Linked DNA regions of Homo sapiens: regions 2 and 3 are each linked to region 1. The links come from fine-mapping of genetic effects on gene expression. A gene starts in region 1. Each other region holds a variant in brackets. All regions are shown on one strand. Distances are from middle to middle. Region 1 holds the start of NDRG2 (NDRG family member 2). Region 2 holds the start of METTL17 (methyltransferase like 17). Region 3 holds the start of LOC105370398 (a long non-coding RNA gene).

Region 1 (7,112 bases):
ACTAACCTTACGGTATTAGGGGATAATACATGGGAAGCTACTATTCAGTTCTCCAAAGTAACCTGAATGTTTCTGCCTCCAAACTGTCCTTCATGCTCTCTCTGTGCCTGGATAGAATGCCCCTCACTCCCACTCAAGTATTCCATGGTTGCACTTCTCATTTGGTGGTTCATCCTAGGAACAAAGCCCTTTTCCTTCTCTGAATTATAGTAAGATAATGATTTCTAGACTGTGGGCCACAGCCTCCTGGCGTGAGGATTTCTGAAATCTTGCAAAGGGCCCTAGAATCTGTATGTATAAAGAGTGAGTGTGAACTGAGTAAATAATATGCCTTGCATGTGTAGGTATTACCGCATTTACAGATGTTGTGACAGAAACTTACTTCAAAGTATTGATGAATTCATAGTTTGCATTTTCTCCATCAGGGGATACTATACCTATTATGTGGGGTTGGAAATCTCTAATCTCCCACTTGAGAAGGGTGGGAAACTACTGCTATAGGACTTACTGTCCAAATGATTGATCTTATATATAACTTGTCCTGTGTTTGTACCTTCTCTTGACAAATGTCAAAATGTCATTTCTCATCACAAATGTCTAGAGAGGGTGTGACCAGATGCACACTTTGAATTTCATCTACACAGTGGCTTGCACATAACAGATACTTAAAACTGTTGCTTACTTGAAGGTATAGTGTGAAGCTGCTCTGGCCAAAGGGAAAGAGTTTAGACAGAGATTGTCCTTGCAACACTTACACCCTGGTTGGGCTGGGAGCTGCCCTGACATGGAAGAACCATATCTTAGGGGAGAACCAGCCTTACTTCTGCCTGCAGCAGGCTGGGTGGGACCCCAAGGTCTAGGAAGCCAATGGATGTCAGTGGAAATTTCCCATCTCCTGCCTGCCCTGCGCCCCTGCGTAGGCCCCTTATCAGGTTCCCCCTGAGTCATCCTGACCCAGAGACGAATTTAGATGCTGGAACCTTCAGGTCCTTCCCTCCCCCACTCCAAGTAAGACGACTTTTGACAAAGAAAAGCCTGCAGGCAAAAGTTCTCACTCGAGGCTCTCCCTCTCCCCAGGTTCCTCTGGTGCTGATGAGATCTCTCCTGTCTTGCGCACCTTTGGCTGTGACCCTTATTCCAGCAGGCTTTTCCTTGTCCAGGAGAGTGTTAAACTGGCATCCAGAGGGAAGAGGGGACTAGGAGAGGAGCCAGGGTGCCCAGCTTCTGTGCCAGTTTCTGGGGAAAAAGTTATAAAGGGAGTGGGAGAAAGGAACAGAAGAAAAGTTGGGTGCTCCAAATTGGGGGATGTAGGGGGAGCTCCTTAGATTTGGGGTTGTTGAAGGCTGGGTTTTAGCCCGACCAGTTTTCCTACTGTGGGTCACCTCCTCCCTCTTGGCCTCTCCTTCTTTCCAGTAGACCCTGCCAAGTGGGGATGAAAGGGGCATTGATGTTCCTTGGATGGGAGGGGTATTGCGGGTGGTGAGGGTGGTGGTGGGAGGGTGGTTCCCAGGCAGGAGGGGGCAGGGAAACTTGGGGGTCTTGGGGGGGCAGTCGGTGCTGGTGTTGCAGTTGGCAGCTCAAGTTCCATTGGCCATTGTTCCTGACTGGCCTGGCGCCCAGCCCCCGAAATGGCAACTCAGGAACCAGTCTGAAGGGGGTTGGGGTGGATATGATCCTGGGATTGGGGGAGCTACAAGGGGGGCAGGTGGGGAGAAATTCAGTCAGGTTTCCTTTTGCCTAAACAACTTCGAATTCCCTTAAGCCACATTTTTAATCAACTAACTCATTCCAGGGAGCCTTCCTCCGAGGGGCACAAGGAGAGCTCATTCCAGGGTGTGTGTGTGTGTGTGCGTGTGCGTGTGTGTGTAAAGTCTACAGTGGCAAACCCACTCGGGCACCGAGAGGGACGCGGCAGACCCTGAGACCATCCCCCGGGCATTGCGATTCAGCGGGCCTGAGCTGGTCTCCTATTCTGGGCCGGACTGGGAGGGGTTAGCGGCGAAGCCACAGGGTCTCTTGGGTCCCAGCCCAGGACACTGCGTCCTCCCCAAGCCCCTACTCCACCCCCGCAGGGTTAACTCCGCCCCTGCGCCTGTTTACCCAGGAGTCAGAGCCTCTGGGGGTCCCCGGCCCCTCCCCCGCGCCCCTTGAGGCATTGACCCCAGAGTCCCTGTTGGCCATCCTCTCCCCACCCCCCGCCTGCCCGCGATCGCCCTCTATTTATAGCGGCCCCCCGCATTCCCCGCCCCCACCTCCCCGCCTTGTTGTCCAACTTCTCCCGGAGCAGCCGGAGAGCAGGCGTCGGGACGCAGCAAAGAGAGGAGAGGTACCAGGACTCTGGGCACGAGGGAGTCGGAACTCCTGCGCCCTCGACGTTCCCCCGTGCCCCCTTTCGGCGCCAGCACACCTGCCCCTGCCAGCCGGCGAGACCCCCGCCTCCTCAGCGGCGGTCCCGCCCACCTCCTCCTTTCTTAATCTAGTTCTCTGTGTTCGGGCGGGGGGAGTCGAACTCGTGGGGTGTCAGTATCCCGGGTTCGTCTCCCCACTACCGGTTCCCACCACTGAGTCTGGGGGCGAAGGAAGGAGCCAGAGTGCAATTGCAGATCCAGGTCGTGGATGGGGCGGTGCTGAGGGCAGCCGAGGGATCCCTCTCAGGGCTGAGGGATCCCCGCACTCCCCACACCGCCCCAATGCGGGGAGGGGGTGGTGGAATGTTTTGGTGAGCCGAGCAGAGCCTGGAAGCGTCCAGCCGCCCGCCCCTCGCCCCCCGGCCCCAGCACAACCCTTTCCTGAGCGGCAGTCTGGGCGGGGTGAAAGGGGGGGCGTGTTTACTGGGGGTCTGGGGCGGGTCTGCGGGGAGCCTAGCGCCCGTGGGCGGGCTGGGGCGGGCCGGGGGCGGGTCTGCGGGAAGCCCGAGCCGGGGCGGGCCCGAGTCAAAGGCAAGTGAAGGTGGAAGCGGCCGCGGCGGCAGCAGGTAGGGGGAGGGGCAGGCGAGGGGCCGTAGGGCCTGGAAGGCGCCAGCCGGGCCGGCGGGCGGTGTGATTGATCCGCGTCCCCTGGAGCTGGAGGCTCGGGGGAAAGGGCCAGCACGGAGCGGGCGCTCGGTTGCTGCGCACAAAGGCTGAGGCTCCAAGAGCTGCAGGGCGTGTTTGGGGTGCGCGCGAGGTTGTGTGCAAGGTCCGGGGCGCTTGGCACCGGCCACGCAAGGGTGTCAGTCTCCACGCGGACGGGCTGCGTAGGGACTCGTAGGGACGGGTTCCGGGTGCTGGGCCCGGCCGGTCTCCTCTGTCCTACCCATCCCTTCCCGATGGCGCTTGCCTTCGCGGGCCGTCGGGGGAGAACGGGAGAAGATTGTGGGACCGCTCTCCTCTCCCTTTCTCCACTCGTGGGACCTACACGGAGACTGAGTAGAGGAGAGAAGCGACGGCACCAATCTTTGTGTTTGTTTTTAAATTGTGGAGGGAAACAGCCATGCTCTGCTACCCTCCTCTTACTGGAGAGCTGTCAAAAATTTTGGGGATCCCCTATTCCCCCGCGTTTAGTCCCCCTGCAGATAGAAAATTGAGGCCAAATGTAGTAACTAACTGGGGCAAGGTCACACTGGGAGTGGCAGAGCCGGGATTCGAATCCGGAGGTTCTGACAGGGCCACCCTCTTACCTCCACATCAGCACTTCCTTCTCTCCTCCGCGCAGCCTGAACTGATGCCCTTGTAGCCTATATTGATTCCGGCTCGAGCCTAGAGAGGACGTGTTCTCTGGACTTAGGGGTAGACAGACACTGGGGAGGGTTAGTGACCCGAGGAGGTTGATGACCCTGGGAGTCTGGGTCTTGGCTGAGGCTTTCCGTCCCTGAAAGACCCCAGGTCTGTCTCCCATGTCATTCACCTCGTTGCTGTGTTTTCTCAGACCCCAGAGTCAGAAGGAGTGAGAACCCTGACCCCTAATCCCACTGCATCCAGCCAATAGGAGCCCAGTAAGTGACCCCACCCCGCAGGCTGCAGGCTCCTTCCTGTGCAGGTCTGTCCAGGTGCTCTGCTCCTCACCCACTAATGTTGAACTTGCGGAGTTTATTCAGAGTTGGGAGGAAGGGTCTTGGGAGGAAGGGAGGCATTGGGTTGGTTGGACAGATGTCCCTTTTATGTTGTTTTCCCCACCTCCCCCATTGGTCATGTTGCTTTGGTCATTTTTAGCCCCCTTTGAGCTGCCGACTTTGGGGCTTTAATTGAAGGTCATGGTCAATTGTGAACTCTCACAGTCCCGTCTTTTGGTACCCTGTCCTTTAGAATACTCAGTCACTGAGCTACAAGTTTCACTCCCTACCTGAGAGTGTGGGGTGGCCCCTAAATATAGCCCGAGAAATCTGAGCTACACTTCTGCCCCACCCTGGTATTTTGGTCCAGGGCAGAGGAGGGAGGGGTCTGGAGGTGTGGTGTTGAGGGTGGCAGTGGGGATGGTGAGTATCAAGAGAAGGGCTGTCCTGATTCCTCTTCCAAAGCTTCCACCGATCAGCCTGGAAACGGAGCTGGGGGCAGGAAAGGCCCTCTGTGTGTTCTAGAGTAGTCTTCAACCCCTGGGTCCCTCTGTTCCCTGCATCTTCCTGTGCTGAGAGAGGAAGCCTGGTGTTTGAGGCGATGTGGGGATGTAGAGACAACTTCCCAGTCTCATTTCCTCATCCTGCCAGGCCACCATGGCGGAGCTGCAGGAGGTGCAGATCACAGAGGAGAAGCCACTGTTGCCAGGACAGACGCCTGAGGCGGCCAAGGTTATTAGAGACCGTTTGACTCCCATGCCCAAATTCCAGACCTCTAAGCATCCCCCTTGCCTTCTAACTTCCCAAGCGTACTGATCTTATTCTAACTCACACCACTGCTTCACCACTACCCTAGTCTCTCTCCCCATACACTATAATTGGGAGTCAGGCCCTTGTCTCGTCACTACACTAACCTTCATCCTTTCCGTGTCTCTCTTTGTCAATCTCTTTCTGTCTTTGGTCATTTGTTGGTCTGTCTTTACTTGCCTCTCTTTGTCTGTTTGTCTCTCCATCTGGGACGCCACATGGTCATGTGTTTCTGTGTGAATCCGTGTGTGTCTCTCCAGGAGGCTGAGTTAGCTGCCCGAATCCTCCTGGACCAGGGACAGGTAACAGTGTGGGGGCAGTCCCAAGGTGGGAGGAGGGGCTGTCCTCTTCCCCAGTAGAAGGATGGCCTCTGCTTGGCCCTCTCTTCTCTCTTTGCTTTCTTTCCTTCTATTCTAGTCCTTTCCCTTCCCTATCTCTCCCCTCTCCTTCCTTCCCCTCCTCTTCTCTCTCTAATCTTCATTATTCTTTCTTATCCTCAAACTCATCTTCCGGTATCATGTTTTCCTCAATTCTTGCTGATCCTGTTTTTAATTCTTTGTTCCCTTTTCCCTCTTGCCCACCCACTCCCAGCTCCCTGACCTTGGTGTTGCTCCTTTTCTGGCCTCGTCTCCTCTGAGCCTAGCTCTTGGTGCCCTGTTTTCCTGCAGACTCACTCTGTGGAGACACCATACGGCTCTGTCACTTTCACTGTCTATGGCACCCCCAAACCCAAACGCCCAGCGATCCTTACCTACCACGATGTGGGACTCAACTGTAAGGACCTTCATTCATCTCCCACTCCTGTCTGGGAAGAGGCTGTGGGGGAAGGGTAGAAATGAAACCCAGAGGGAGGGGAGGGGTCAGTGTGGGAAGGAGAAGTTCTCTCCTGGTCTGACTGTGGCATGAAAGGAAGGGTGAGTTCTGACTGGGGGACACGAGTCCCTGTCTGATTCTATTGTTGAGGTGATGTGGGTTCTCTTTAGATAAATCTTGCTTCCAGCCACTGTTTCAGTTCGAGGACATGCAGGAAATCATTCAGAACTTTGTGCGGGTTCATGTGGATGCCCCTGGAATGGAAGAGGGAGCCCCTGTGTTCCCTTTGGGGTAAGAGTTAGGTCGTTACTGCTTCACCAGACTGTGAGGAACAGGACAGGTGCGGGAAAGGTTCGACTGGGGAGGAGGAAAGGGAGGGCAGTGGTTATTCTGGGAGAGAATGAGTAGGACATCCTGAGGTGGGGGGTGTGAGGGCAGGTTGGTATCTTCCTTAACATGCCTCTCTTTTCCAGATATCAGTACCCATCTCTGGACCAGCTTGCAGACATGATCCCTTGCGTCCTGCAGTACCTAAAGTGAGAGGCCTGGGAACCCCTCCAAACCAGAGTTCTCTTTCCAGCACAAGGAGACCCTTAGAACTTCCAGGTTCACCGTGGTTCCTGAGCCAGTTTCAGCTTCTGAACTCAATATATCTTCTTCCTTCATGCTCCCGCCTTGATTATTGAGAAAAGGTGGTGGGTTTGGAAAATTGGCCAGAGTCAACAGAATAGCCCTAATGGGTGGAGGGAAGGAAAAGGGTCTATGCTTGGCCCTGCCTCAGGCTAAGGAGGGCCTTCTCTGATCAGAAAGTCAGGGAGGAATGAAAGGGGGTGACATAATCCCTGAGGAACCAGATAGACCTGTCTCTTTCTCTCCCACTCCCCTCTCCTTCATGCCCACACCTGGTGGATGGGGAGCTCTGCGGGTGAGAGAGAGTTGGGGAAGGAAGAGAACACCAGACCAAGTGTCTTTGGTATTCAGAGGGAGGTGCTGGCCCCTGGGTGCTGTTCTTAGCTAAGCTTCTCCTAGGCACCAGGGCTCAGCAGCTCTGGTTCACCACTTTGCCACTCTTTTCCTCATTCTCTCCATTGTTCACTAAAATTGTGTCTGTTTTCACATTTGCTTTAAGTTCCATTCTTCCCGTTCCTCTAGAGGAACCAGGAACTAAAGCAGAACAAGTTGAACTGGCTCTTGAAAATTGAGAATGGACAAAGAGCTATCTATATGGGAAAACAGTGTGTTGGTTGGCTGGTGGATGGGTGTTTGTTTTTAAGACACTAGCTCTCCAGCAGAAAGCTGGGGATAGACTTCAGGTATCTACCCTGACTACCCGTGCCAACCTTTGGCTTCTTGGGCCCTTCTTTTTCGCGTCCTCCAAAGAAAGGTCCGTGTCTGCCTTTCTTTGTGCCCGTGGACTCAGGAGGGAGGGTGAAGAGTTTGAAGAGATGGGCTGTGGCAGGTT
Region 2 (7,112 bases), 37 kb after region 1:
CAAACAAAAAACAGTATACTGGGACATTCTGACCTTTACCTAAGCAATCTCTAAAATAATCTACCTTCTTTTAGTAAGGCATCATTGTAACAACTGCTGCTCTGGTTAGAAAGTCAAATAAGAGACTTCAGTATCTGAGAGATTGTAGAATTATTTCTTACTCTTCATTTCTAACCGATATTTCAATCTCGCCCACTTTTTAATTATTCTTAAGTCCTACCTGGGTTTTCCAGGAATTTTTTCTCAAGATGCCTAGCCCGTCTTTGCAACTCCTCTGGCTCTACAGGCAAATGTCTGCTCCAGAGATAACTGGTCAGTGTTTGCACCTGATTCTCCATAGTGGGCCCAGCGCTCCCTATGGGCCAAAGACGAAAAGCGGAATCACTTGCATGTAGGTCCAGTCCCGTTTCTTCTCGCTTTCCCGCCGTTACTCACCAAGTAGCAATAACTGGGCACCGTTAGCCAGTGCCTGTGGCAGCCGCACGTGCGGCAGCTTTAGGATGCCAGGGTGCTGGCGATGAGGCCTCTTCTGCAGGAAACCGGACTTGTTATCTACCTGGGTCACTCCGGGTACTAAGGCGGCGAGCGCCTGCAGGCAGAGAAAGGTAGGTTGATTTCCTGGCAGAAAGGAAAGTTGCTGGCAATCGCTAGGGCGGGGGCTGCCAGGAGCGCTCCTCCTCTGCGCGGAGATGTCTCTGCAGATCCAGAGTCTCTCCGACAGCAGGGAATGTAGGCACTCACCCGGGCCTGGGGAGCCACTCCAAGGCCGGGGCACCATCTTCCTAATGTCAGTAGACACTTCAGTGCCGCCGCCATGGCTCCGGAGGCGAACCGGAAACGGAAATACAGGTGCCTGTGACCCTCAGTCCCAACGCCGCAAGGAGCAGCCTTCGCAGAACTTCTCCCGACAGTTTCAGCCAACGAGAAGAGCGAGTGTTTGCCAGCAGCCAATAAGCAATGGTTATATAAATAATCCTTGAGGCAGAAACCGTGTTTGGGCCGACTTGAAGGCTGCGTTGGGCCTGGTCACCGGCCCCAGAAATCAAGAGGGTGGGGTGGGGCGGGGCGGGACGGGACGGGGGCGGGATGGGGTTGGGTGTGAGCGCGCCAGCAAAGACTGTTTCTGGGAGTACTGACTTCCTGTGTTCTTTGCATTCCTCCGCGGAGAACTCTGAGTCTTGGGTTGTTTCCCTGTGTGAAAAAGGGAGACTGCAGTAACGGAAAGAAGAGAAAAATCAGATTTAAGCGACTGAAGAAAACAGAAATTAATAGTTAAATGATTATTGAATAGTTAATAGTTTGATAAATATTAAACCTAGTTAATAGGTTTATTTATTTTTTTACATTTGTTAATTTCTCTTCAAATGAGACCAGTCTTCTTAGTAAGCTAACATAACACTTACTGAGAACACCTATGTGCTAGGTACTTCAGGGAAAAGGACTGATCCCCACTTCACAGAAAACATGGTTCTGACGGGGACCCTCCTGTGTCTGCTGCTACGTCAGAGTGTTTCCCCCAGGCCCAGGACTTAGACAGTAGCCGTCTGATTACCTGAGGTGCAGAATCTCAGGTGGGTCCAGCCACTATTGTGACGTGATAATATAGCATAGGGGAATGGTCTCCAGAGTCTGCAAGCTCATCAACACCTTCATTCACTAGAGCATCAGAAGGATAAATGGCATATGCAAGGCGATATCTACTTTCGGGACCTGACAGTGGACAACTGCTACCTCAGTCTCCGAACACTTGAGCTCACCCAGTGTGTGATTTCTGTGGGCTCCTGGCCCCCTAATTTCCGTTACAGGTTTAGGATGTTCTCCCAGCACATCCACTTGACCTGTGTGTGGAACCAGCCAGTTCATCTGGAGGGCTAGACTCCTGAGTCATCAGGCTAGGGCCTGATGATCTCAGGCCCCAGCGCCCTAATTGGACTTTCCTTCTGTGGTTCTCTACCTTATTCGACTTCTTCCCCAAATCTGCAGACCTCACCGACTGCAGCCTGCCAGCTCTCTCAGGGCTCCTCATCTCGGGGTGAGGTGGGGTGAGGAGACATGGGTGGACAGGGGGAGAAGGGCCGCTCTGCCTCTTCCAGGCGGAACCGCCCTTCCTGTAGATGAATGCATGGCCCACTGACACATCCTAGGCTGACACTTGCCTCTTTTCCAGCTTTTCCTCAGTCCTCCTTTTACCTGGGAATCTTTCCTGGGTGCTCAAAAGGGTCACCACAGTGACCTCTACCCCTCCAGTGAGAATGCTCACGTTCAGAGTCGTGATTCTGTGTGTGCCCTGGGCTGAGGACTCTGCCCTAGAGATATCTGAGGAATGGAACCATTAAATTAAATTGATACCTGTTGATATCTCTCCAGACTATTAAGTCCACAACCCAGGCCGTCTCAAAGGTTCTTACTCCTGAAGCCATCCCTCATTTTTTGTGCGAGTCTTGCCCAAATGCCAGGGTGCTGGCGATGGGGCCTATTCTTGCCCAAATGCACAGATAATTCTGAAGATTGGGCCATACTAGATGTGTGTGTTGGAAGATCTGCCAAGATTCTACTGTCAGCTAGTCAGAGCTCTTGAGTAAATCCCTCAGCATCTTGTCCTTATAATTCTATTCATATAGCTGAGATCATGTCACGGCTCCAAAAGCCACCATCCAAATTATGGGCATTTTCTGTCCATAAAACTTTGTGAAATGATTCCTTGTAGGAAATTTATCCAAGGGAATCACCAGATCTCAAGTACCTTCATAGTAGTTCAACTCCAACGCATAAGCCACCGCGCCTATGTAGGGGCTCCACACAATGTTTGCACTCCACACAATGTTTGCGCTCCAGGATAAGAGAAGGAGAGAAGGGAGAAAGGGATGCAACTTTCACCTCAATGGGAGTGAATGAATGGCCTCTTCAAACATGACCTGTCTGGGATTCTGAGTCATTCTAGTTCCCCTGCAACAGTAGGAGCCATCTTGACTTTATCTCTGAATCTCAGTGTCTGTCTTATTCTGTGCTTGGGTTTTAGTAGGTTACCAGTGTTTGCAGAAGTGACCCTGCCTGATTTGCGGTGGACTGTGAAGCTAAGTGTCTACTCTTTTCCCTCCGTAGGCCACTGGGAGGACAGATGATGCTCAAGTTTCCCTTTTTCCTCTTGGTCTTATGTCACTTACTGCTTTCTTTTCTTTTTTTTCTAGCCTATTGTTTTCTTTTTAAGACAGGTGAC[A/G]TTCTGTCACCCAGGTTGGAGTGCAGTGGTGAGAACATGGCTCACTGCAGCCACACATCCTAGGTTCAAGCGATTCTCCTACGTCAGCCTCCTGAATAGCTGGGACGACAGGTGTATGCTACTGTGCCTGGCTAATTTTTTATTTTTTTCGAGAGATGGGGTCTTTCCACGTTGCCCAGGCTGGTCTTGACCTCCTGAGCTCAAGCGATCCTCTGGCCTTGGCCTCCCAAAGTGTTGGGATTACAGGCGTAAGCCACCGCGCCTGCCTTATTCTATTGTTTCCTTTCTCTCCCACCCTCCCACTTCTTTTCTTCCTCCCTTCTTTTATTCCTTTTTTTTCACAGCACAAGATATCTTCTAATGTAAATATTTGATTCTTTATGATAAATTAAAAAAAGACTGGGGTGCAAATCAGAATCAATCACATTTTTTTCTTACTCCTTGGGGGCTCATTTGACTCTTGAGTGGGAAAGAGGCAGATCCCAGGTGAAGCCTCAGTCTCTTGGCCTAAGGCAGGGAGAAGCATGAGTCAGATCAACATGATGATTCATCTGAGTCTCAACCATGAAGAAATTCACGGATTGTACAGGGTTTTCTGGTGCAGTCAGCTTTCTTGTGTTGTGACTTGGCTGATTAACTCATATTCAAGGCCAGAACTACTGTTGCTGTTGAGACTAATCCAATTACAAAGTATTCTGCTGCGGGGGAGGGATCTTCCAATTGGATCTGATCTCCTTTGGCAAAAATCTATGTTGAGGAAAGCAAGGAGGTTCTGGAGGGATTATAGATTTTGAAAACTCTGGCTCGGGCAGACCCAGCATGGCTTCCTACAGATATAGGATGGGGGATCACCACAGAGCAGTGTTAGTCTTGGCATGGGATGGCATGAAAGGATCGCTGATATCCTCAGAAGATGAATGGTGGTCACACAGGAGCTTCTTTGGAGGTGCATTGTGGACTCTTAACACATGGATAAAGTCTTAGAGGAAAATCCAAGGATTGGACACCCATTGGGGGTCTCGTATATCTCTCCTGAGGGACTGAGACCCTGAAATAGGGACCGGAATGGCCAGGGCAGTGAGAGAATGTAGAAGTCTTTCTATTCTCAGTTCATGTTTCTCAAGAAAATCTAAAAGTTATCCCATTAAAATGTTCTGGGTTGGGGGCCTCCATTGTTTAACAACTAGGTCAATGGTTTCCAGTTCAGACTCGGGAGAGGAATCCCAAGAAGGAAACTCTGGCTTATCATCTACTTCTCCAAGCCTTCTAGAAATACCATTTCTAATGTACTGTCCTGCAACAGGGACCAATTCAAGACAGAACTTTCCAGAAGGATCTGTTTGTGTTTTTGAGAACTACTGGGAATGGCCAGCACAGCCACCTGGCCTAGGAGACTTGCTATTATACAGAAAATGAAGAAAAAATGTGAGAAGAAAGGGATGAAGAAAGAGAAGATAAAGAGGAAAGAAAGATATATAATGGGGAAAGACATTTATCCATGATAGGGAGTTTATTTTTCGTTCTTGAGTTGGTGGAATTCTTTACTGACCATGTTAGATGTGCCACACTCTGTGTTAAGGGCTAAAGCTAGGAGAGGAGGAGACTGTGTTATGGGAAGTGGTATTTTTTTTCTTGTTCAAATCTTGTTCCAAATTTCTACTTTGAATTTGGTGGAGCTGTTTTTGTTCAAGCTCTGATAGTACTGTGGGCATCAGACATCTATGAAATCTTCTACAAGCCAGTTCAGCTTCCTCTCCCTCCTCCTCCTCCTCCTCTTTCTTCTTCCTCTTCCTCTTCTTCTTCTTTTTTTTTTAAGACAGAGTTTCACTCTTGTTGCCCAGGCTGTAGTGCAATGGCATGATCTCGGCTCACTGCAACCTCTGCCTTCTGGGTTCAAGCGATTCTCCTGCCTCAGCCTCCTGAATAGCTGGGTTTACAGGCGTGCGCCACTATACCCAGCTAATTTTTTTTTTGTATTTTTAGTAGAGATGGGATTTTTCTATGTTGGCCAGGCTGGTCTCAAACTCCTGACCTCAGGCGATCCACCTGCCTCGGCCTCTTAAAGTGCTAGGATTACAGGTGTGAGCCACCATGCCTGGCCTCTTTCTTCTTTTTAATCCTACTCCAGCACTCCAAAGAGCCATGTTGTATAAAGGGGAGCCTAAAACCCAAAACAAGTAGAGCAAGGGAGGGCCATTCCAAGGAGGAACCCAGCTTCTTTTTTGTTTTTAGCAACACCCCTGTTTCTCTCTTCATACAAACATTCTCCATCTCATCACACCTCTATGCTGGAAACTTGAGTCTTTGGATTTCTTGCTGTTCAAAATTCTGCAGTGAATTAAAGCAGTCTGTTCAGTTCCTCCTGAAGTGATTCCACTGCTCCATATGCATTGGATTTATCTTCTCTAGATTTTAGTCTTGACCTGATTAATGCCTCCATTCCATGTCAACTAACATAAACCTAAAAAAAAAAAAACACAGATCTTTATGTAAAATCTGTAAAAGAATGAATATCTACTTTGCCCTCCTTCCACAGGGAACCCGGCCCATGTAGGCCCTGGGGCCACAGAATGCGGGCAACTGCTGTTCAAGGACCAGCATGAGGGGGCCAGGGCCAGGGTGCTGCTTTTGGGAATGCTGTACACTTCAGCCATTGTGGCTTTTGTGTTGTATAAGTGTTGCAGATGCAGAGATGGCTGGGGGTCTGGGTGCCCTGAGTCTGCATCTCTCATGGGGGCACCATAGTACTGAGAGCAAGATACAGTTTCCGCTGTCTGTAAAATGAAGATAATAGTTGATTGGCCTCCAACATTATAGAGTAATTTTAAGGATTCAGCGAGGTAAGGCTGAATGTGGAAGGCACGTGGTAAACTGTAAATGAATAATGACCATCACATTTAATTTTCCTACAATCTGATAAAGAGTAGCCACTTGCTTGAGGTCACCCAGAGCAGCAACTGGTGGAGCTGGACACTCAGCTAGTGTTCATACTACTAAAGTGGGGCCAACTGTGGCACAAGGGGTTGATTGCTGCAACCATAGTGTTTCTAGAGTTCAAGACATCAAGTGGTCTCATGTTCTCCTAGGGAGAGAGGCCCTTAAATATGAGTTGATGGTACATTTTGGAAAGTAAACTTTCTAGGACAGTATCTTCAGCCCTGACCCTATTGTTTATTTGCATTAGAAAATAAAACCGATTGAACCAATTTTGATGTATGAAACTAGAAGAGATAGCTAATAATGATCCCAGGTAGACATGACAGGCTAGGATGAGTGACTGGATTTAATAATGAAATTTAACAAGGATAGTTTAGTAAATTCTATCCTTCGGCGTGAGTACAGTCTGGAAGAAGATATTTCTTAGCAGCAGCACTTATGAGAGAGACTTAGGCCTACCCGTTGACTAATAAGTTTATGGTGTGATGTGACAACCAACAACCTACTTCCCAAATCAATGGTAGGAACAAGGTGTTGTGCTTTATCTACTGACCAGAACATTCCTGGAGAATTTTTGTCTCCCAGAACTGCCTTAAGAGCGCTATATGTTCAGTAAAGCAACCAGAGAAAACTATGCAAAATGAGCCCTGACTGAAAAGATCAAAGATATTAAACCAGAAAAAACTCAGGAAAGGGAGCAAGGGTATGCCCATTGTCTTCAAATTCCTGAGGAACTATCACGTTGAAGAGCCATTATTTTGGAAGGCTCTAATCAGGGCTATGGAAAGAAGATACATGAAGGACAAATTCTGGCTTTGTATATGAACTGTCTAACAACCAGAGCTCAATCAAACGCGAGAGAGCTGCTCATTCCTGGAGGTGTTTCAGCAGACCGAATGACCATGTGTGGGACACGATGACATGTTGCTTCATGTGCTGGGTGAGGAACTAGACTAGA
Region 3 (7,112 bases), 26 kb before region 1:
CAGGAAGGCACTTCCGAGTTCATTGAATCTTAGCTCTTGCTCTGATCAGAAGTGTATTTTTTTTTTCTTTTTTAAGGCAGGGTCTTGCTCTGTCACCCAGGCTGGAGTGCAGTGGCACGATCATGGCTCCCTGTAGTTTCTACATCCTGGGATCAGGTGGTCCTCCTACGTCAGCCTCCTGAGTAGCTGGGACTACAGGCCTGCACCACCACGTGTGGCTAATTTTTCTTTTTCTTTTCTTTTTTTTTCTGAGACGGAGTCTTGCTCTGCCGCCCAGGCTAGACTGCAGTGGCGAGATCTCGGCTCACTGCAAACTCTGCCTCCTGGGTTCAAGCGATTCTCCTGCCTCAGCCTCTTGAGTAGCTGGGATTACAGACACCCACTGCCGCGCCTGGCTAATTTTTGTATTTTTTAGTAGAGCTGGGGTTTCACCATCTTGGCCAGGCTGGTCTCGAACTCCTGACCTCATGAGCCACCTGCCTCGGCCTCCCCAAGTGCTGGGATGACAGGTGTCAGCCACTGCGCCCGGCCAAAGTGCGGCTAATTTTTCTATTTTTTGTAGAGATGGGTTTTGCCACGTTGCCAGCACTGGTCTCAAACTCCTGGACTCAAGTGATCCACTCGCCTCAGCCTCCCAAAGTACTGATATTACAGGTGTGAGCCAATGCACCTGGCAATAACGTTACCAACAGATGGTTTTTGGGCTTGAATACCTTCAGTGACATGAATCTTCACTACCTACCAGTTATATCAGGCACCCAGTTCTGTTGTCTGAGAATTCAACTTTTCTCAAAACCTGATTATCCCCTTGTAAGGCCCCTGTTTCTGTTTTTGGCGCTTCCAGTTGAAAATACTGGTCTCCTTTGACTGTTTCTAATCTTTCATCCCCATATCGATTAGTAGGCTAACAGACTGAATACTTAGCATGATCAAAGTATGGAGGGGCACTTGAGTCACTTAGTCTTATTGGTTCTCTTGTACGTATTTCTCTCCCTTTCCACTGCCTGTCTGGATGACTCTCACCACCTTCTAACTGCCTCCTTGCCTACCCTTTCTCCTGAGTTTAATTGAGCATGTATAATAATGTTGGATGGATCTTGTTAAAATATTCCTTTTCCTGCATCATTTCTCTAAAGATCATCTGTTTATCTCCAGTGGTTCTCTTGCTTGCAAGGTAACATCCAGCCTTCCCAGCCTGGAATCAAAGCCTTCTCCTACTCACCTTGCGTCCAGTCTACCCATTCCGTATGAGTGGCCTCCCTATCTTCCCTCCGAACACAAACTATTCTAACCAAATTCTATCCTAATAACCTGATTTTCCTTTTGTCTCCAGCACATGTTTTGCTCTCTTCAGCTTTGCTTCTGTTTCCCTCTTCCCTGCAAGTCCTCCCTCAAATATTATCCATCCTTTAGAACTCATCTTGACCATATGAGTTTGCTCAGGATCACATTTACGAACCTTGCCGTACAAATCCTAACCTCCTTTAGCATTAACTGTTTCATAGTATCACTCATTTGGGTTCTAAATCGTGTACTACCTTGTTTTGCTATTTAACTCTTTCATCCAGTAAGAGCATCCAGTCTTCCCAACTAGACGGTAAACTCGTGGGACAGGAATCAGGTCCTTCCGTGCTTCTCTGTCTTCATAGTGCCAGGCACATGGCTAGCTCACAGGAGCACTCAGTAACCGTGCATTGAACTCAGTCATCACTCTGATCCTCTCAGTCTTCTTACTATTTATAACACAAGGAGTTTCAGTTGAATAATGTCTAAAATGCCCCCTGGTTCTGACACTTGTGTGACACAAGAAAAAACATCAAAGTGCTAGTAAGTAGCCAGCACCTTACTAGTATGAAGGAGAGGCCTAATAGTAGACTCTGAAGGTGCCTTGAAAGAAGGGGAGCAGAGAATAAGCAACTATCTCCCAAAGACCCATTCTTTCAGGATACCCCAGGAGGGCTGAGCGAGGGTGCCAGAGAAGTTTGCCTGGTTTGCTGGCCTGAAGGACAGCAGTACCACGAGGGTCGTCTTTGAACTACAAGTGCCACCCCCATAGGGTTTTTCAAGCTTCAACCTTCAAACAGCCTCCTGGTGGTGACAGACCTGTGGTCTGGGCCCTGGTTTATGGCTCTGAGAAGCAGAGCTCCATCACATGGAATCCAGTGGCCACATTCCTTTTGGGAAGCCCTCCTCTGTTTCCAGTGGCTAACCCTGTCTCCTGCCAGGTCCATTTTTCTTTTCTATGTAGTTCTTTGAGGCCTTCCTATGGTGCCCATTTGCACTATGAGCTTGTCTCTGCGGGAGGACTGTCTCCCTTTGTTCCTCACTCCTGGATTCATCTTCATGAGGGAGAGGATGTAGTCTTCAACCCAACCAGAGCTGAGGCATATGGCTCCCTGGATACGCCAGTTCCCCTCATAGGCCGGCTGCCCTCCTGAGACCTCTGACTTACCACAACAAGGCTGCGTGCAGCCTTCAGCCCTGCTAGGAATGATAGGGGTCATAACGATAAAAACAATCATAGTTAACATTTACTGAGGCTTTTCTATGTTCCAGTCACTGTTCCAAGTGCTCTATGTCTATTTTCTCATTTTTCAGCATGAAAAGGACCTTTCCAATGCCCTAGCCCCATGACTACCCTATCTTCCTCAACCAGTTCTTGAAAAGAAACACTGGTCAGAGACAGAAATCCACAAAGAGCAAGTTAAGGAAAACATTAGAGCCAGTGTACTGCTACCCCAGGTGGAACACAGATGTGTGCAGAGGGTACACAAAGTCACAAGATAAATGTGTTCTTTACAATTTTACTAAAACCATCTTTTTAGGGGATGGGGAGTAATTTAAGGCATTATTTTTACAGAAAATAACTTTGTATGATAGAAAAATTCAAATGAGTTACATTAAATTTTTTTAGCATTTTCACTTTGAAATAATTTAAAACGTATATAAAAGTTTCAGAAAGCATACACAGAGCT[C/T]CCCTATATGCTTCACCCAGTTCCCCAATTATTAACATTTCTGAGCTATTTCAGAACAAGTTACAGACATGATGCTCATTACCCCTTAATACTTCAGTGACTATTTCCTAATTACAAGTACTCTCGTGTGCATAACCACAGTACAGCCACCAAAAAGGGGAAATTGACATTGATCCATTATTATTATTACCACAAATGAAATTTAAAGATAGCATATAAAACACTCATATGCACGGCTATTTTATAAATATTAGTTAAGTGAAAGAAGCTTCAGAGAAAGCCCAAGCTCATTGGGCACTACTTTAGGTGTTTTAGTTCATCTTCCTCTGTGGTTACTAGCACTTCAGGGGAAATTCTGGGAAGCATTGCTCTGCAGGTTCTAGTTGACCATGAAGATCCTGTTCTGGATATGCCAAATTCAAGGGTAAAAAGTGGTAACCCTTACCAAAGATAAATGCTTGGGATATCTCAGGCCCACCCGGAGCTCCACCAAACAGGATCTCTGTAATGTTTTCACCCTGGTCCGGAGTAGCAGATGGGAGGTCCAGGCCCTTTTTCTTGTTGCATATCCTTATTTATGTTTCCAGCAGCCAATGGCACGGCCAGGGACATGCTTGACTAGTTTGCCATCAATTCCTCATGTACTGTTTTTTTCCCATCTCAATGATACAATATGAGCATTCAGGTGAAGGTCAGAAATGCAACGTGTCAGGATTACGGGCACTTAATACTCTTTTGGATGAACATGCTTTTGTCTCAAATCCGGGGGTCTGCCCATTTGCAGATTGATTTGCCAGTCCATGTATGATTTGATCTTGAAAGATATCTGGGCTGGGCACAGTGGCTCACCTGTAATCCCAACACTTTGGGAGGCCAAGGCAGGCAGAACATGAGGTCAGGAGTTCAAGAGCAGCCTGACCAACATGGTGAAACCCAGTCTTTACTAAAAATACAAAAATTAGCCGGGCATGGTGGTGCATACCTGTAATCTCAGCTACTCAGGAGGCTGAGGTAGGTGAATCGCTTGAACCTGGGAGGCCAAAAAGCTCAACAAGGTTGCAATGAGTCGAGATCGTGCCACTGCACTCTAGCCTGGGTGACAGAGCAAGACTCTATCTCAAAAAAAAAAAAAAAAGAAGAAAGATGTCTGAGATCCATTTGATATTGAATGCCACTTTGTAAATATCACAAGGCTTGTTCAAAAAAGCCCGAGTTCTTGCCTAAATTATTCATGTAATCTTGGGCAAAGTGTTTAAGTCCTCAGGGTTATTTTGCTCATTTGCAACATGAGGAAGGCATGACTAGATGATCTCCGAGAACACTGGACAAGATGTCTTGCAGCATTATAATGTTATGATTACTACTGGGAGAGCCCTAAAGCCATGGAGATAGGAAATTTCATCTTGTGCTAAATGCCACGACCCAAGCAGGAATTTGTACTAATTCACACCACAGTTAGTTTATGTTTTAAATGTGTAAGTTCAACTAAGTTTCTATGAAAAAACCATAGAAAGTAATGACCACAATGTTTTTCTGCTATAACCAATCCACTGGACATGAGTCACAGGCGTTGGTGGAGGTTTTGAGTGATGAAAAATGAACCAGAAAATGGAGCTGAATCAGAGGGTGGGAAAAATATAAGAGGCTTCCACGATGGAAGTGAGGGGATAGTAAGCCTTCCTAAGGACTAATTTAAATATCTCAGGAGGGGAAGTTGGAAATGTCACTAGAGCCCTGTCTCCATCAATTGCTGCAATAATCAAATCCTTTGGATGGGAGGGAATACAGAGGGCACCCTCAAAAGTTAGTGGTCCTAAGTCCTCCAACTTATTTTCATATCTTTGGATTCATAAATTCACAGAGGTTGCAGAGGAGAAAAACTTCCCTTAAGTAATCTTAACAGAAATTCTCCAAAGCCCCCTTTTACTTCTCCTTCAACTCAAAGTACCCATCCATTCCTCCCAAATAACCTTATCTACAGAAACTAATACATATTGTCCTTTTTGTCTGACCTTGAACCTTCCCTTATCTACTCTTGGCTAGGAGCTTTTTGGCAAGAGGCGGATGAGGAGGAGTTTGGCCTCCCTTGTTTAAATCCTTTGTTCTTCTGTCACGGAAGTCAGGCCTGCTCCATTCATCACAGGTTTGACCACTCAACATTTGACACCACAATGATAAATAGAAATGCTAACACCATTCAAACTTTCCCTACATGCTAGTCACTGTACTAAGTGCTTTATATGTATTGTTACTTTTAATCCACATTATACTCTTGTGAAGTGGTAGTGAAGATCCATGTCCCTGAAGGTATTCAAGCCCAAAAACCATCTGTTGGTAACATTATTGCCAGGCGCATTGGCTCACACCTGTAATCTCAGCAGTTTTGGGAGGCTGAGGAGAGTAGATCACCTGAGCTCAGGAGTTTGAGATCAGCTTATATAGATGGGGAAACTCCCACCTCCCTAAGCTAAGAGGCGTTCTATCACAGTGTGTATTTTCATCACGAGCACACATTTTTATTTACCTTTCCTCTTATGAACTGTGGACTTCTTACAAGATCTCATTAGCAATGTGGGCTTTCTCATGTCCCTGTGGCTCCGTGGATGTTCCCAAGCTTACTGGTTTTGGAGTCTTGCACAGGTAAGCATCCTGATAAGAGCTATAACTGCTCTTCTTTTTGCCCATTCATGGTGGGGTGGGGGTAGGGGGAGGACATTAGAATGAAGCTCTGAAGTCTTTGAAGCACTTTTGGAAGCCCAGTTGTGCAGGTGCATGGAAGAAATGTGATGAAATGAGTTGAAGCTCTCCCAAGGAGAAGAGAAGGCCCCCTGGATGTTGTTGCTACTGGTATGTTTTTTGGTGCCATAGCTCAAGGGTTATCCCCCAGAGCCCCAGACACTATGAAGAGGGCCAAAGGGTCCTGATCTTAAGGGCAGGGTGTAGGCAGAGGAAATCCCTGGAGCTGAGGATCCTTCTCTTCACAGTGATTCTGTTGGCCCTCTTCATGGTGTCTAGGGCTCATTTACTTCAGTGTGTGGAGACTTCTGGGAACCAGAGTCATGTAGAAAAGTCTCCTCCCCAGTCTACCTCAGATAGTCTCCCTTCTAGGAGAGCCAGCTCATCTAGCTCCAGTTCTTGGTTTACTTTCTTTACTGAACTCCATTTCCGCTCCTTTACTCCATGTTGAAACAATTTAAGTCCATCTGCACAAGACTGGGCAAAGCTCCCCTGGACACCATCCTCCTCTCTCCAAGCTCCCAGCCCTAGAAACATAAATATCTCATAATTAAGCATTCTCCTTTTCCCATTCTTCAGCTTTCAAGTAGGAATGCATCACAGTTCAGCCAGCCTTGGTATTTGGCCCAAATTATTATCTTCTTGTATCTCAGCTTTGGCTTTTGGAAGGCTGAATAGTCAAATTCCTATTTCATCACTATTCCTGGCATCCTTTAACTTGGCTGTGATCAAGGTCACACGAAGGATTGAGTGACAAATCTATTCAGGTAGGGCACCACTAATAAGAATAGGCCAGGCCATTTGGATTTATTGTTAATATCTGAATAGTTACTTCCAAATATTGGTGAGTACTCTAGATGTAACCTGGAGTGAAATTTTCCTTGTGAGCTTAAAAAAAAATTATTATATTGAAATTCTACCAGCCAGTGGAAGTATAAATGGGTATTTATTATTATTTATTATTTTTAAGAAAGATGCTATTATTAATTGTTGTGAAAGCTTATATATGAAACAATTATTTAAAATTTCCACATGGTTAAAAAATAGGAAATTAGTTGACCGATAATATAAATAATAGAAGAGAGTGTGTTAGCTAGATAACTTTAGGGAGAACCTTATGTCCCTTGATCAACAATGATTTGAACTGTGCAAGTCCACTTACATTCAAATTTTCATCTGCTTCTGCCATCCCTGAGACAGCAAGACCAACCCCTCCTCTTCCTTCTCCTCCTCAGCCTCCTTAACGTGAAGACAATGAGGATGAAGACTTTTATGATGAGCCACTTCCACTAAACGAATAGTAAATATTTTTTTCTTCCTTATGATTTTCTTAATGACACCTTTTTTTTCTCTAGCTTACTTTATTGTAGGAATATGGTACATAATACATATAGCATACAA

Evidence for each region.
Region 2: its variant is fine-mapped to the expression of NDRG2 in whole blood (TOPMed, PIP 0.92).
Region 3: its variant is fine-mapped to the expression of NDRG2 in whole blood (TOPMed, PIP above 0.99).

Annotation. Positions count from the first base shown.
Region 1 is chr14:21,020,891-21,028,002 of GRCh38, reverse strand. It overlaps NDRG2 (NDRG family member 2), which reads left to right and starts at 2,942. Exons shown (of 16, transcript NM_001320329.2): 1 at 2,942-3,973; 2 at 4,682-4,762; 3 at 5,098-5,139; 4 at 5,506-5,611; 5 at 5,821-5,941; 6 at 6,124-6,186. The coding sequence starts at 4,688. It overlaps MIR6717 (microRNA 6717), which reads left to right and starts at 4,617; the gene lies at 4,617-4,689. It also overlaps a transcript of TPPP2 not described here. RefSeq lists a silencer at 2,820-3,109.
Region 2 is chr14:20,983,707-20,990,818 of GRCh38, reverse strand. METTL17 (methyltransferase like 17) reads right to left here and starts at 839. Exons shown (of 14, transcript NM_022734.3): 1 at 742-839; 2 at 436-589; 3 at 221-355. The coding sequence starts at 816. RefSeq lists an enhancer at 263-312 and a silencer at 1,063-1,192. The variant A/G (reference allele first, on the strand shown) is at 3,218.
Region 3 is chr14:21,046,765-21,053,876 of GRCh38, reverse strand. LOC105370398 (a long non-coding RNA gene) reads left to right here and starts at 5,182. Exons shown (of 4, transcript XR_943588.3): 1 at 5,182-5,615; 2 at 5,731-5,822; 3 at 6,947-7,011. It also overlaps a transcript of NDRG2 not described here. The variant C/T (reference allele first, on the strand shown) is at 2,976.